Linked DNA regions of Homo sapiens: region 2 is linked to region 1. Evidence: fine-mapped expression QTL. Tissue or cell type: whole blood. Region 1 holds a variant in brackets; the other region holds the start of a gene. All regions are shown on one strand. Distances are between the middles of the regions.

Evidence for each region. PIP is the estimated chance that this variant, and not a neighbour inherited with it, causes the effect.
Region 2: UPK3B starts here. The variant in region 1 is fine-mapped to the expression of UPK3B in whole blood (TOPMed, PIP above 0.99).

The regions. Positions count from the first base shown.
Region 1 is chr7:77,080,373-77,087,219 of GRCh38, forward strand. It overlaps the pseudogene FAM185BP. Among named protein-coding and RNA genes, the nearest start is that of SPDYE18, 21 kb to the left of the region's middle. The variant T/G (reference allele first, on the strand shown) is at 2,461.
Region 2 is chr7:76,506,417-76,514,902 of GRCh38, forward strand. UPK3B (uroplakin 3B) reads left to right here and starts at 4,136. Exons shown (of 6, transcript NM_001347684.2): 1 at 4,136-4,321; 2 at 4,487-4,636; 3 at 5,241-5,466; 4 at 6,668-6,747; 5 at 7,531-7,660. The coding sequence starts at 4,237. LOC124901675 (a long non-coding RNA gene) reads right to left here and starts at 4,317. Exons shown (of 2, transcript XR_007060388.1): 1 at 4,108-4,317; 2 at 1,765-3,692. RefSeq lists a silencer at 2,518-2,723 and enhancers at 3,601-4,173, 4,174-4,746, 5,500-6,151, 6,152-6,803, 6,804-7,453.

The DNA of each region.
Region 1 (6,847 bases):
GTATTCTCTGGTTTGCCTTTCCTCACTAGAATGTAAGCTCCTCAGAAGGCAGTGAGACCATGCTTTATATTACCCTTGCACTCCTAGTTTCCGGCAGTGTTGACTCAAACATTTGTTGAGTAACTGAGCAAATAAAGAAAAATAGAAAAGACAGGAGAAGGAAGAGGTAGGCTAGGGGAAGATAATTTTGTTTTTAAACATTAAGTTTTAGGTGGCACTGGTTTAGTGGAATAGAAATGCACAAGAACAATAGAGATCAGGTCTGCATGTATTGACTTGGAAGTTATGTACATAGAAATAATGACTGAAGTTGTGAGAATAGTTTTAAAACAATCTAAATTTTAGAAAGGCATATGATTCCATGAATAAATGAATAAAAATATGACAAAATAGCTTTAGCTTATAATTCAAACATGCTTACATATGCCAATAATTTTGGTTATGCTATGATTCAGAGCACAGTTAAACAAACTTGTATTATTGTTTTAGATTATTGGGACCAAAAATAGGTAACTCTCTTGGCTCCTTATCAAATTCAAGCATTAGATCACAAGTTGATTCTCACTATATTTGATACCCAGTCACACACTGCATAATTATGTTTCAGTCAACGATGAACTACAGAAATGATGGTTGTCCCATAAGATTATAATAGAGGTAAAAAACTCCTATCACCTAGTGACTTCGTAGCCATCCTAATGGTTGTTTAAATGCAATGCACTACCTGCATTTGTGGTGATGCTGGTGTAAACAAACCCACTCCACTGTCATAAAAAAGTATAGCACATATGTTATGTGTAGTTCATAATACTTGATAATGAGAATAAATGACCGTGTTACTGATTTATGTATTTACTATACTTTTTATCGTTAGAGTGTATATCTTCTGCTTATTAAAAAAAAAAAAAAAAGTTACGATACAACAGCCTCAGGCAAGTCCTTCAGGAAGTATTCCAGAAGAAGGCATTATCATCACAGGAGATGACAGCTCCACGTGTGTTATTGCCCCTGAAGGCCTTTCAGTGGGACAAGATGTGGAGGTGAAAGTGATACTGACATTCTTTACCCAGTAAAAGCCTAGACTAATGTGTGTGTTTGTGTCTTCGTTTTTAACAAAGTTTAAAAAGTAAAATTTAAAAAAATTAACAATTTTAAAAACAGAAAAAAGCTTACAGAATAAAGATAGACAAGTATATCTCTACAGCTGTAAAGTGTGTTTGTGTTTCAAGCTAAGTATTATTACAAAAGAGTCAAAAAGTTTTTTATTTTATTTTATTTTTTTCTGAGAGGGAGTCTCGCTCTTGCTCAGACTGGAGGGCAGTGGCGCGATATTGGCTCATTGCACCCTCTGCCTCCTGGTTTCAAGGGATTCTTTTTCCTCAGCCTCCTGAGTAGCTGAGATTACAGGCGCCCGCCACCACGCCCGGCTAATTTTTGTATTTTAGTAGAAATGGGGGTTTCACCATGTTGGTCACGCTGGTCTGGAACTCCTGACCTCAAACGATCTGCCCACCTCGGCCTCCCAAAGTGCTGGGATTACAGGCGTAAGCCACCGTGCCCAGCCTCAAAAAATTTTTTAAAATGTAAGTTTATAAAGTAAAAATGTTCTTTGGGAAGTTGAGGTGGGAGGATCACTTAAGGCCAGGAGCTGAAGACAAGCCTGGGAAACATAGCAAGGCCTTGTCTCTGCTAAAAACTTTTTAAAAATTAGCTGGGCATGGTAGTGCACACCTGCAACCTAGCTACTAGGGAGGCTGAGGCAGAAGGATCACTTGAGCCCAGAGTTTGAGTTTATAGTGAGCTATAATTGCACTCCAGTCTATGCAACAGAGAAAGCAGCTATCTCTAGAATAAATAAAGTAAAAAAGTTACAGTAAACTAAGGCTAATTTATTATTGAAGAAACTTAAAAATAAATTTAGTGTAGCCTAACTGTACAGTGTTTATAAAGTCTATAGTAGTAATGTCCTAGGCCTTCACATGCACTCACCACTCATCATACTGACTCACTCAGAGCAACTTCCAGTCCTACAAGCTCCACTTATGGTAAGTGCCCTATACAGGCGTACCATGTTTTATCTTTTATACCAGATTTTTACTGTACCTTTTCTATATATAGATATACAAATACCATTGTGTTACAATTCCCTACAGTTTTCAGTACAGTAGCCTGCTGTACAGGGTGTAGCCTAGGAATAATAGGCTACTACACAGCCTCAGTGTATAGTAGGCTGTACCATCTAGGTTTGTATAAGTTCACTCTATAATGTTCACATGACAACAAAATTGCCTAATAACACATTTCTCAGAATGTATCTCTGTCATTAAGTGATGCATGACTGTACTTAGATTTTCATCAAATTTTTGCCACTTAACTATGGGTTTGCCCATTAAGTGGCATGCAGTTATATCTGGGAGTGTATAGGTATTATTTTTATTCCTGTTATGTTTTTTGTTAATA[T/G]TCTATGAATTTTAACAGACAACTTTCTTAATTTTCACGACATATAAAATGAATACCTAAAACTGAAATTTGATCTTATGAAGACCACCCTCCCCTACTCCCCAATTCTTCCTTTTTCTAGTTGGCATCTCATGGATTTAGCTTGTAGCATTCATCCCTATACACGGTCTAATTGCAATGTCCTCCTTGATGCCATTCTGGTAAAATTTAAAGGAAAACTTCACCAGCATTAATTTTTTTATTCATTAAAACAACAAACCTTGGCCAGGTGCAGTGGCTCATGCCTATAATCCCAGCACTTTGGGAGGCTGAGGTGGGCTGATCACCTGAGGTCAGGAATTTGAGAGTAGCCTGGCCAACATGGTAAAACCCTGTCTCTATTAAAAATACAAAAAAAATTAGCCAGGCATGGTGGTGCATGCCTGTAGTCCCAGCTACTCAGGAGGGTGAGGCAACAGAATCGTTTGAACCCGGGAGGCGGAGGTTGCAGTGAGCCAAGGTCACGCCACTGCACTCCAGTATGGGCAATAGAGTAAGACTCTGTCTCAAACAACAAAAAAACCAACCAATGACAAACCTTAAAAAAATAGTATCAGCCACCACTGTAGCCAGATATAATGAAAAATGTACAAAAACGATTCACATTTGTGCTACTGAGAATTTGTTGTTCTGAAAGAGCAAGTTTAAAATGTACATACCAAACAAAATTCCGATTTACTCCAGTCACACGAAGTTAGTTTTAAATTTTGCACTATAATATATGTATTCAGTTTAAGTTCGAGAATTAGAAAACAGCTCTTCTAGAAAATTTAAAAATCAATTTTACCCAATGACAGGACTAATGAGTCTTCCTAAATGATTTAATGAGGTCTTTTTAAACAAAATGTCTGCATCATATTAATGATAAGCAACTAGAAGAAAAAAAGATGTCAAACATGAGGACATAATAATGGAAAAATATAAAAAAGCTAAAATTTCCGTTAAGTGTACCACATTTCTACTTATGTATGGAGAATGGCTATTCATCTGACAGAGCAAAATGCAGCCTCCTTACCAGTCACTGTTACAACATCATCTTTACGAGCTTCAGCCATTTCCTGAACATGGACTTCTGAGTTCACATCAACCTCTTTCCCTGATAACTGTAAATGAGCTTGAAGTGAAGATGGGACCTTGACAATAATAGAACCTGTAATAAATATAATGGAGAGCTTAGTAATATAAAGAAATCAAAAGTACCAGAGTCTATTATAAATTTGACTGACAGGGTAGCATTGCTCCTGAGACACTGTTTTTACTCCTCAGCATACAGTATTTATTTAAACCTTTTCCTTATTCCCAGGTGCCCAAAGTTTCCTTACTCTCGGCATTCACAGTAACTTCTGTCAAGAATATGGGTTATTAGCACATTATTAACTACTAGATCTGCTTTTGCCAATAGTCCTACACAGCTCATCCAACACCAGAAAGTGAGTAATTTACTACACATGTAGCTTATAGATAGGATTTGCCATTGAGCATTTAATATGAGCCAGACCCCTAATTACATTATGTTTTAATCCCCATATTAACTTTATGAGGTATTATTATCGCCCCGATTTTATAGATAAGAACTTGCTCAAGTTCCCACTAGTGCTCGTGCTGGAACCTAGACTCAGCTCAATAATTACAAAGCCCATGCTTTTTTTTTTATTATTATACTTTAAGTTTTAGGGTACATGTGCACAACGTGCAGGTTAGTTACATATGTATACATGTGCCATGTTGGTGTGCTGCACCCATTAACTTGTCATTTAACATTAGGTATATCTCCTAATGCTATCACTCCCCACTGCCCTGACCCCACAACAGGCCCCGGTGTGTGATGTTCCCCTTCCTGTGTCCATGTGTTCTCATTGTTCAATTCCCACCTATGAGTGAGAACATGCGGTGTTTGGTTTTTTGTCCTTGCAGTAGTTTGCTGAGAATGATGGTTTCCAGCTTCATCCATGTCCCTACGAAGGACATGAACTCATCATTTTTTATGGCTGCATAGTATTCCATGGTGTATATGTGCCACATTTTCTTAATCCAGTCTATCATTGTTGGACATTTGGGTTGGTTCCAAGTCTTTGCTATTGTGAATAGTGCCACGATAAACATACGTGTGCATGTCTTTATAGCAGCATGATTTATAATCCTTTGGGTATATACCCAGTAATGGGATGGCTGGGTCAAATGGTATTTCTAGTTCAAGATCCCTGAGGAATCGCTACACTGACTTCCACAATGTTTGAATTAGCTTACAGTCCACCCAACAGTGTAAAAGTGTTCCTATTTCTCCACATCCTCTCCAGCACCTGTTGTTTCCTGACTTTTTAATGATTGCCATTCTAACTGGTGTGAGATGGTATCTCATTGTGGTTTTGATTTGCATTTCTCTGATGGCCAGTGATCATGAGCATTTTTTCATGTGTTTTTTGGCTGCATAAATGTCTTCTTTTGAGAAGTGTCTGTTCATATCCTTTGTCCACTTTTTGATGGGGCTGTTTGTTTTTTTCTTGTAAATTTGTTTGAGTTCATTGTAGATTCTGGATATGAGCCCTTTGTCAGATGAGTAGATTGCAAAAAATTTCTCCCATTCAGTAGGTTGCCTGTTCACTCTGATGGTAGTTTCTTTTGCTGTGCAGAAGCTCTTTAGTTTAATTAGATCCCATTTGTCAATTTTGGCTTTTGTTGCCATTGCTTTTGGTGTTTTAGACATGAAGTCCTTGCCCATGCCTATGTCCTGAATGGTATTGCCTAGGTCTTCTTCTAGGGATTTTATGGTTTTAGGTCTAACATTTAAGTCTTTAATCCATCTTGAATTAATTTTTGTATAAGGTGTAAGGAAGGGATCCAGTTTCAGGTTTCTACATATGGCTAGCCAGTTTTCCCAGCACCATTTATTAAATAGGGAATCCTTTCCCCATTGCTTGTTTTTGTCAGGTTTGTCAAAGATCAGATGGTTGTAGATATGCGGCGTTATTTCTGAGGGCTCTGTTCTGTTCCATTGGTCTATATCTCTGTTTTGGTACCAGTACCATGCTGTTTTGGTTACTGTAGCCTTGTAGTACAGTTTGAAGTCAGGTAGCGTGATGCCTCCAGCTTTGTTCTTTTGGCTTAGGATTGACTTGGCGATGCGGGCTCTTTTTTGGTTCCATATGAACTTTAAAGTAGTTTTTTCCAATTCTGTGAAGAAAGTAATTGGTAGCTTGATGGGGATGGCATTGAATCTATAAATTACCTTGGGCAGTATGGCCATTTTCACGATATTGATTCTTCCTACCCATGAGCATGGAATGTTCTTCCATTTGTTTGTATCCTCTTTTATTTCATTGAGCAGTGGTTTGTAGTTCTCCTTGAAAAGGTCCTTCACGTCCCTTGTAAGTTGAATTCCTAGGTATTTTATTCTCTTTGAAGCAATTGTAAATGGGAGTTCACTCATGATTTAGCTCTCTGTCTGTTATTGGTGTATAAGAATGCTTGTGATTTTTGCACATTGATTTTGTATCCTGAGACTTTGCTGAAGTTGCCTATCAGCTTAAGGAGATTTTGGGCTGAGACAATGGGGTTTTCTAGATATACAATCATGTCATCTGCAAACAGGGACAATTTGACTTCCTCTATTCCTAATTGAATACCCTTTATTTCCTTCTGCTGCCTGATTGCCCTGGCCAGAACTTTCAATACTATGTTGAAGAGGTGTGGTGAGAGAGGGCATCCCTGTCTTGTGCCAGTTTTCAAGGGGAATGCTTCCAGTTTTTGCCTGTTCAGTATGATATTGGCTGTGGGTTTGTCGTAGATAGCTCTTATTATTTTGAGATACGTCCCATCAATACCTAATTTATTGAGAGTTTTTAGCATGAAGCGTTGTTGAATTTTGTCAAGGCCTTTTCTGCATCTATTGAGATAATCATATGGTTTTTGTCGTTGGTTCTGTTTATATGCTGGATTATGTTTATTGATTTGCATATGTTGAACCAGCCTTGCATCCCAGGGATGAAGCCCACTTGATCATGGTGGATAAGCTTCTTGATGTGCTGCTGGATTTGGTTTGCCAGTATTTTATTGAGGATTTTTGCATCGATGTTCATCAGGAATATTGGTCTAAAATTCTCTTTTTTTGTGTGTCTCTGCCAGGCTTTGGTATCAGGATGATGCTGGCCTCATAAAATGAGTTAGGAAGGATTCCCTCTTTTTCTATTGATTGGAATAGTTTCAGAAGGAATGGTACCAGCTCCTCCTTGTACCTCTGGTAGAATTCGGCTGTGAATCCATCTGGTCCTGGACTTTTTTTGGTTGGTAAGCTATTAATTATTGCCTCAATTTCAGAGCCTGTTATTGGTCTATTCAGAGATTCAACTTC
Region 2 (8,486 bases), 570 kb before region 1:
AGACATTTGAGACCAGCCTGAGCAAAATTGCAAGACCTCATCTCTAAAAAAAAAATTAGGCCAGGTGCAGTGGCTCACGCCTCTAATCCTAGCACTTTTGGGAGGCTGAGACAGGTGGATCACCTGAGGTCAGGAATTTGAGACCAGCTTGGCCAACATGGCAAAACATCGTCTCTACTGAAAATACGAAAATTAGCCAGGCGTGGTGGCATGCAGCTGTAATCCCAGCTACTCAGAAGGCTGAGGCAGGAGAATCATTCGAACCTGGGAGGTGGAGGTTGCAGTGAGCCAAGGTCGTGCCACTGCACTCCAGCCTGAGCCACAGAGCGAGATTCCGTCTCAAAAAAATAAATAAATAAGCCAGGCATGGTGGCACCTGTCTGTAGTCCCAGCGGTCGGGAGGCTGAGGCGGGAGGATCGCTTGAGCCCAGGAGCTCAAGGCTGCAGTGAGCTATGATTGCACCACTGCACTCCAGCCTGGGCAACAGAGCAAGATCCCATCTGTAAAATCATAATAAAAAGAGACAGATTGAATGCTTGGCTAGGTAGGTGGAATCCAGGCCAGGGTTGATCTGACACCATTCTCAAAGTTCTAATTCTTCCTCCTCTTGGAAGGAGGATCAGATATCCCCAGTCAAGATCTTGCTGCTTGTCCGGGAGGAGTAGTTTGGGCCTGGGACCAGAGGGGGACGGTAGGGCCACCTCATTCATGGCTGTGGAAAGCAGAGGCACTTTGGCCTTGGTGAGCCCCTTTCTCTGTTAAACCTATTTTACAACATGTTGGTATAAAGATGAATATATTAATGTATACTAGAGGATTTTCTCTCACCTAAAGGTTCATTTTTTTCCCTTCTGATTTTAAAAGAAATTAAAAATGTATGTCAGCTCTTATAGTGTGGGCCCAGGGCACTGTGCCTAATGGTAAGTTGGTCCAGGGTAAAAAGGGTAGTGAGGTCTCTCTAGAAGACCCCAGTGTTGGCCGGGTACAGTGGCTCAGGCCTGTCATCCCAGCACTTTGGGAGGCTGAGGCGGGAGGATCACAAGGTCAGGAGTTCGAGACCAGCCTGGCCAACGTGGTGAAACCCCCTCTACTAAAAATACAAAAATTAGCTGGGCATGGTGGTGTGCACCTACAATTCCAGCTAACTTGGGAGGCTGAGGCAGGAGAATTGCTTGAACCCGGAAGGCAGAGGTTGCAGTGAGCCGAGATCACGCCACTGTACTCCAGCCTGGCGACAGAGCAAGACTCCGTCTCAAAAAATATATATAAAAACAAAACCATGAGATGCCACACTACACCCATTACGATGGCTATACTAAAACAAAAAGCAGTGTTGGAGAGGATGTCGAGAAATGGGACCCTCATCCACTGCTACTGGGAATGTAAAATGCAGCCACTTTGGCAAACAGAACCTCAGAAAGCAGCATTAGCATATGACCACAGTTCCACTCCTAGGTACATTCTCAAGAGAATTGAAAATGTGCCCACAGAAGCCTGCGCACGGATGCTCATGGCAGCATTATTTACAGTAGCCCCACAGTGGAAAAAAACAAATTCTGCATCCACTGATGAATGAAAGTGTGATACGTTCACAGGATGGAATATTACTCAACTGTGAAAAGGAATGAAGCAATCACAGTCGAGGAGGAACCTTGAAAAAGTAACAAAAGCCAGACACAAAAGGTCACATGTTGTGTGACTGCATCCTATGAAATGTCCATTACGGGCAAAACCATGGAAACAAGAAGTAGCTTAGTCGTCACTGGGGACGGGAGAATGGAGAGTTACCGTTTAATGGGTGTAGTGTTTCGTTTTGGGGAAGTAAGAAGGTTCTGGAATTGGTGATGGTTGCACAACCTTGTTGATATACTAAAAGCTGTTGGGCGCTGTGGCTCATGCCTGTAATCTGGGCACTTTGGGAGGCTGAGGCAGGAGGATCCCTTGAGCCAGGAGTTCAAGACCAGGCTGGGCAACACAGTGAGACCCTGTCTCTACAAGAAATATATTTTTATTATATTTTTTTTGAGACAGAGTCTCACTCTGTCATCCACGCTGTAGTGCGGTGGTGCGATCTCAGCTCACTGCAACCTCCGCCTCCCGGGTTCAAGTCATTCTCCTGCCTCAGCCTCCCGAGTACTTGGGATTACAAGCACGTTCCACCACACCCGGCTAATTTTTGTAATTTTAGTCGAGACAGGGTTTCACCATGTTCGCCAGGCTGGTCTCGAACTCATGACCTCAAGTGACCTGCCCACCTCGGCCTCCCAAAGTGCTGGGATTACCGCCGTAAGTCACTACACCCAGCCTCAAAAACTATATTTTTAAAAATTAGCAGCTGGGCGCAGTGGCTCATGCCTGTAATCCCAGCACTTTGGGAGGCCAAGGCAGGTAGATCGCGAGGTCAGGCGTTCGAGACCAGCCTGGCCAAGTTGGTGAAACCTCATCTCTACTAAAAATACAAAAATTAGCTGGGCATGGTGGTAGGTGCCTGTAGTCCCAGCTACTAGGGAGGCTGAGGCAGAAGAATTGCTTGAACCCAGGAGGTGGAGGTTGCAGTGAGCAGAGATCACGCCATTGCACTCCAGCCTGGGCGACAGGGTGAGACTCCATGTCTCAAAAAAAAAAAAAAATAGCCAGGCACGGTGGCTCACGCCTGTAATCCCAATACTTTAGGAGGCCAAGGCAGGAGATTTGCTTGATCCTCCCAGGAGTTAGAGATCAGCCTGGGCAACATAGCAAGATCCTGTTTCTATAAAAAATACATTTTTAAAAATTGGCCAGCCGGGCGCAGTGGCTCACACCTGCAATCCCAGCGCTTTGGGAGGCTGAGGTGGGTGGATCACCTGAGGTCAGGAGTTCGAGACCAGCCTCACCAACGTGGAGAAACCCTATCTCTACTAAAAATACAAAATTAGACAGGTGTGGTGGCACATGCCTGTAATCCCAGCTACTCAGGAGGCTGAGGCAGGAGAATCACTTGAACCCAGGAGGTGGAGGTTGCGGTGAGCCAAGATCGAGCCATTGTACTCCAGCCTGGGCAACAAGAGTGAAAACTCCGTTTCAAAAAAAACAAAAAAAAAATTGGCGGGGGTGCCAGGCACGGTGGCACATGCCTGTAATCCCAGCACTTTGGGAGGCCAAGGCGGGTGGATCACTTGAGATCAGGAATTTGAGACCAGCCAAGCCAACATGGTGAAACCCCGTCCCTACTAAAAATACAAAAATTAGCTGGCCGTGGGGCACATGCCTGTAATCCCAGCTACTTGGGAGGCTGAGGCAGGAGAATCGCTTGAACCCAGGAGGCGGAGGTTGCAGTGAGCCCAGATCACGCCACTGCACTCCAGCCTGGACAACAAAGGAGACTCCATCTTAAAAAAAAATTAATTAAATAAATTTTAAAAATTAGCCGGAGCATGGTGTTGTGTGCCTGTGGTTCCAGCTACTGGGAAGGCTGAGGTGGGAGGATTAACTGAACCTGGGAGTTTGAGGCTCCAGTTAGCTGTGAACTGACCTCCCTGGGTGACATATATATATTTAAGCCACTGAGCTGTGAAGGTTGTGAAGGTATGTGAGTTATGTCTTGAAAAATACACACATAGTGAGCGCCAAATCCCGGGAGTAGTGTTTAAGTGGCGGGCTTGTCAGCTGTCAAGGGCTCTGCAGCCCTTTCTCTGAATCCAAGTTCTTCTTCCTGTGGACAGGGAACCCAGGCTGCGAACTGGGAGGATGTGGCCTCGTGGGGGGCAGGGCCAGCGTGCTGTGATGGGGATGGGGCTGGGCAGGTTGGGGCTGCCTGCTACTCCCCACTCCTGACTCTGGGTGGGGACAGAAGGCAGAGGGAGGCTCCTGGCACCTGGGGCACAGGAATCTCAGGCATGTGGTCCTGAGCCTGTTTCCAAAAGCCAGACCCTCCTCCCCAGGGCGGAGAGACTGGGAGGGGCCCCAATCCAGGCTCCGGGATGGCCTGGCTGGCATCTGGGGTTCCAGTGGCCCCTCTCCCTTGGCCCTGGCAGTGGGGCTGGATACTGGCCTGCCTCCCACCAGAGTCCCCCCAGCTCCTCCCTGCTGTGGGCTGGCCTGGGAGGAAGGGGGTGGGGTGCACTTACATTTGCAGGTCTTTCCAGCCCCTGGGGCAGCCTGATTAACCAGCTTCTCCAGGGCCAAGCTGTTGGGGGTGAGGTGCAGCCCGAAGCAGCCAGACCAGCCCCTGAGCCTCCCGGGTGCTGGCAGCTGTCATGGGGCTACCCTGGGGGCAGCCTCACCTAGGGCTGCAGATGCTCCTCCTGGCGTTGAACTGTCTCCGGCCCAGCCTGAGCCTGGGTGAGTGGGGGTCCTGGATGGACGCGTCCAGCCAGACCCAAGGGGCTGGGGGCCCTGCTGGAGTGATTGGACCCTGGGCGCCCGCCCCCCTCCGATTGGGAGAGGCAGCCCCAGGGACCCCCACGCCCGTCTCCGTGGCTCACCTTTTGTCCCCCGTGGCCACAGAGCTGGTGCCCTACACACCACAGATAACAGCTTGGGACCTGGAAGGGAAGGTCACAGCCACCACCTTCTCCCTGGAGCAGCCGCGCTGTGTCTTCGATGGGCTTGCCAGCGCCAGCGATACCGTCTGGCTCGTGGTGGCCTTCAGCAATGGTACGGGGACTGCTGTGGGGCCTGGGTGAGGGTGACGGCTGAGGAGAGTGGTGGGCCCTAGGAGCCCCTCACCAGCAAGCGCCTTCAATGATTGAGCCCCTGTGGGGGCCTTTGGGAGAGTAGGTGTGGATGAATTGGGCTTTATCTAAAGGGGTAATATGTGTATTGAAAAATACACACGTAGTGAACACCAAATCCCGGGAGTAGTGCTAGTGGTGGGTTTGTCAGCTGTCAAGGGCTCTGCAACCCTTTCTCTGAATCCAAGTAGTTCTTCCTTTGGACAGGGAACCGAGGCTGCGACCTGGGAGGATGTGGCCTCCTGTGGGGCAGGGCCGGTGCACTGCAATGGGGCTGGGGCTGGGGCTGGGCAGGTTGGGACTGCCCGCTGCTCCCCACTCCTGGCTCTGGGTGGGGACAAAAGGCCAGAGGGAAGCTCCCCTTCAGGGGTAACAAAGTCGACTGGGTCTGGACTATCTCTGGGGGCCCTGAGGGAGGAGGTGGCATGGGGGGTCAGGGCTGGAGACTGGGCGAACACAGAACCCCCACTCATAAGGACAAAGCTGCTTTCTCCCCTCCCACCTCCATCTGTTCTCTCCTCCTGCAGCCTCCAGGGGCTTCCAGAACCCGGAGACACTGGCTGACATTCCGGCCTCCCCACAGCTGCTGACCGATGGCCACTACATGACGCTGCCCCTGTCTCCGGACCAGCTGCCCTGTGGCGACCCCATGGCGGGCAGCGGAGGCGCCCCCGTGCTGCGGGTGGGCCATGACCACGGCTGCCACCAGCAGCCCTTCTGCAACGCGCCCCTCCCTGGCCCTGGACCCTATCGGTGGGTGGTCCCCACCGGAGCCCTGGGACTGGGGCTGTGCTTGGGGCGGACGCATTGCTGGGACCAGGGATGCTCTCTCTAGCATCTTTCCAGGGAGGGGTCCCCGGCCCCGGTCCTCCCCTTTGCAAGCCCGGGCTCCTTCCACTGTAGAGTCAGCAACAGTGCTCACCCCCGCTGGGGCCGGGCAAGGCCCAGGAGGAGCAGGTGGGCACCTTGGGGAGGCGGGATCTTAGTCAAGGTGGGAGGGGGCAGCTTCCCCAAAGTCTAGGCCCCTGTCCCCCACCACGGGCAGATCTGGCAGGAAACTCGGGGGCCGAGTTCAGACCCAGTCTCGTCGGTATTAGGCAGGGAGCAGGAGAGGTGGCTCCTACCCGCTCTTACAGATGAGGAAACTGAGGCACAGGAGGTCAAGTGGCCTGCCAACATCGGGGTGGAGCCGGGATGGGGAAGCAGGCAGTGTGTCCAGGTCAGGACTGTCCGGACACAGGAGGAGGCGGGGTGACCTCAGGAAGACCAGGCCCAGGGGAAGCCGGGAAGGCAGGGCGTGGTGAGGCTGGAACAGCACCCCGCTCCGCCCAGCCCCCTTCTGCCCTCTCACCCACTCTCCAGGTCCACCCTCTGCCCTCCCCGCTGCCTCACCCTGGCTCAGCCTTCCAGCTCCATGCCCCGCCCCATCCCCCGCAGCCACTCTTTTCAATGCCAACCTGCCAGGTCCTTCCCCGCTTCCCAGGCCTTGCAGAGCTCCCAGCCCTGCAAAGAGACAAACCGAGGCCCTCTGCGGGGCTCCTGGTGCCCTGGGTCCTCAGGCTGCTGGTGATTGAGCCCCCTGCCCCCGGCTACTGCTGCCCCTCTGGGAGGCCTGTGACCCCTGCCCCATGTGCCCTGCTAAGCCACCTTCACCTGCTCTTTTGGCTTGTGACATTTAGGAACCAGGGCCCCTAAACCAGCATCCCCGGCCCAGGTCTGGTGTCTGGAGAGCAATTGCTCGGGGGGATGAGGGGTGGTGGCACAGGCCAAGTGGCTGGAGACATCTCAGGGGATTCTCAGAGCAGGGCCAGGCCATGGGCTGCTGCTCTTGACGGGCACCCCCACTCCACATCCATGGGAGGGCCCCAGAGGAGCTGCCTGGGGCTTGGCCCTGCCCAGGGTGGTCCCAGCCTCTGAAGCTCTCCCCTCCTCCCCCACCACCTCCCATCCCCAGGGTGAAGTTCCTCCTGATGGACACCAGGGGCTCACCCAGGGCTGAGACCAAGTGGTCAGACCCCATCACTCTCCACCAAGGTAGCGCTGGGCAGGAGGGGCGCTGCCCCCAGTGGACTCACGATCTCTCTGGGCCGCCTCTGCTGAGCTGGCCACACCCCTGCTCCCACAGGGCTGGGGGCCTGGAGGCCATGTCCAAGTCGGGCCCAGCCCCCAACAGAACCTCATGCTGGGGGAGTGGGGCACCCAGCCAGCCCCCTCGGCAGGGGCACCATCTCGGCCCATCCGCAAGCGTTTGCCACATTGTGGGCACAGACAGCCTCCCCCCTCCTGTAGGGAGTCAGCCTGTGTCAGCCCCTGCTGGGAGGGAGGAAGAGGGTGTGGAGGAGGTCAGGGTCAGGGTCGGGGCTGGCTGGGGAGGCAGCCAGCTTGAGTTCTGAGCAGACCCCAAGGGGCAAGCGTGAATGTACCAAGCCCAGAAGTTTCGAGTGCCACGGCCCAGGTGTCGGGGGTGGGGGTCTCCTGGGAGACGGCTTCAGAGGTCAGGGGGTGTGGGGTGGAAGTCTTGTCATCTGAAGGCCTTGACTGCTGGGCTCCAGGGAGCAGGGCAGTGGATGAGCACGTGGGTGGGAGCAGCCTAGAAGGTAGGAGCAGGGCGGAGGCTGTGGTCCAGGCTGGCAGAGAACAGATGCTGTGCCGTCCCGAGGAAGAGGGACGGGGGGTGGGATCAGGGGGGCGCCTGGGGATATGAGACAGCCAGACCTTGAAGCTAGGCCAGCGTGGGTGGGGAGGGAGCGAGGGAGGAGATGACAGCCAGCCCTGGGGTCGAGGGGCAGCCCCTCTGAGCAGCTGGTGTGTGTGCAGGGAAGACCCCCGGATCCATCGACACCTGGCCAGGGCGGCGAAGTGGCAGCATGATCGTCATTACCTCCATCCTCTCTTCTCTGGCCGGCCTCCTACTCTTGGCCTTCTTGGCAGCCTCTACCATGCGCTTGTGAGTGGGGACACCCCCTCGGGCCCCTCTCCCACCCAGAACCCCTCTGTTGAATTGGTCCCAGTGTCTGGAAGCCCTCCAGGCATGCCATGGGGTTTATTTTATTTTTGGTAGAGACAGGGACTTGCTATGTTGCCCAGGCTGGTCTGGAACTGCTGGGCTCAAGCGATCCTCCCGTCTCGGCCTCCCAAAGTATTAGGATTACAGGTGTGAGCCACCTTGCCGAGCCCCGTGGTTTCGAGCTGGGCAGCGCCCCTCCCAGGGCCTGTGCAGGGAACTCCCACCCTGAGTATCTCGCACCTCAGGGGTCATTGATGGGGCCAGCAGCCCCTCTGAGGACAGGTTCGGGAGGTCCCGCCTCACTCGGGCCCTGTCTTTTCAGTGTGTCCTCAGCCAAGGCCCTTCTCCTCCCGGGCCTCACCTGCTGTCTGTGGATCCTCTGGTGGTTTAGTAAGCTGACGCCAGGGTAGTCAGGGTGGCCACCTGGAGAGGTGGTCCTCCAATTGGTTCTAGAAGGGAGGAAGGAGGGATCAGAGACTGCAGGTGAGGCCGGGTGCAGTGGCACATGCCTGTAATCCTAGCACTTTGGGAGGCCGAGGTGGGAGGATCACTGGAGGCCAAAAGTTCAAGACCAGCCTGAGCAACATGGTGAAACCCCATCTCCACTAAAAATGCAAAAATTGTCCGGGTGTGGTGGCAGGCACCTGTAATCCCAGCTACTCGGGAGGCTGAGGCAGGAGAATCGTTTGAACCCGGGTGGCGAAGGTTACAGTGAGCTTAGATCACACCACCGCACTCCAGCCTGGGTGACAGAGCCAGACTCCAT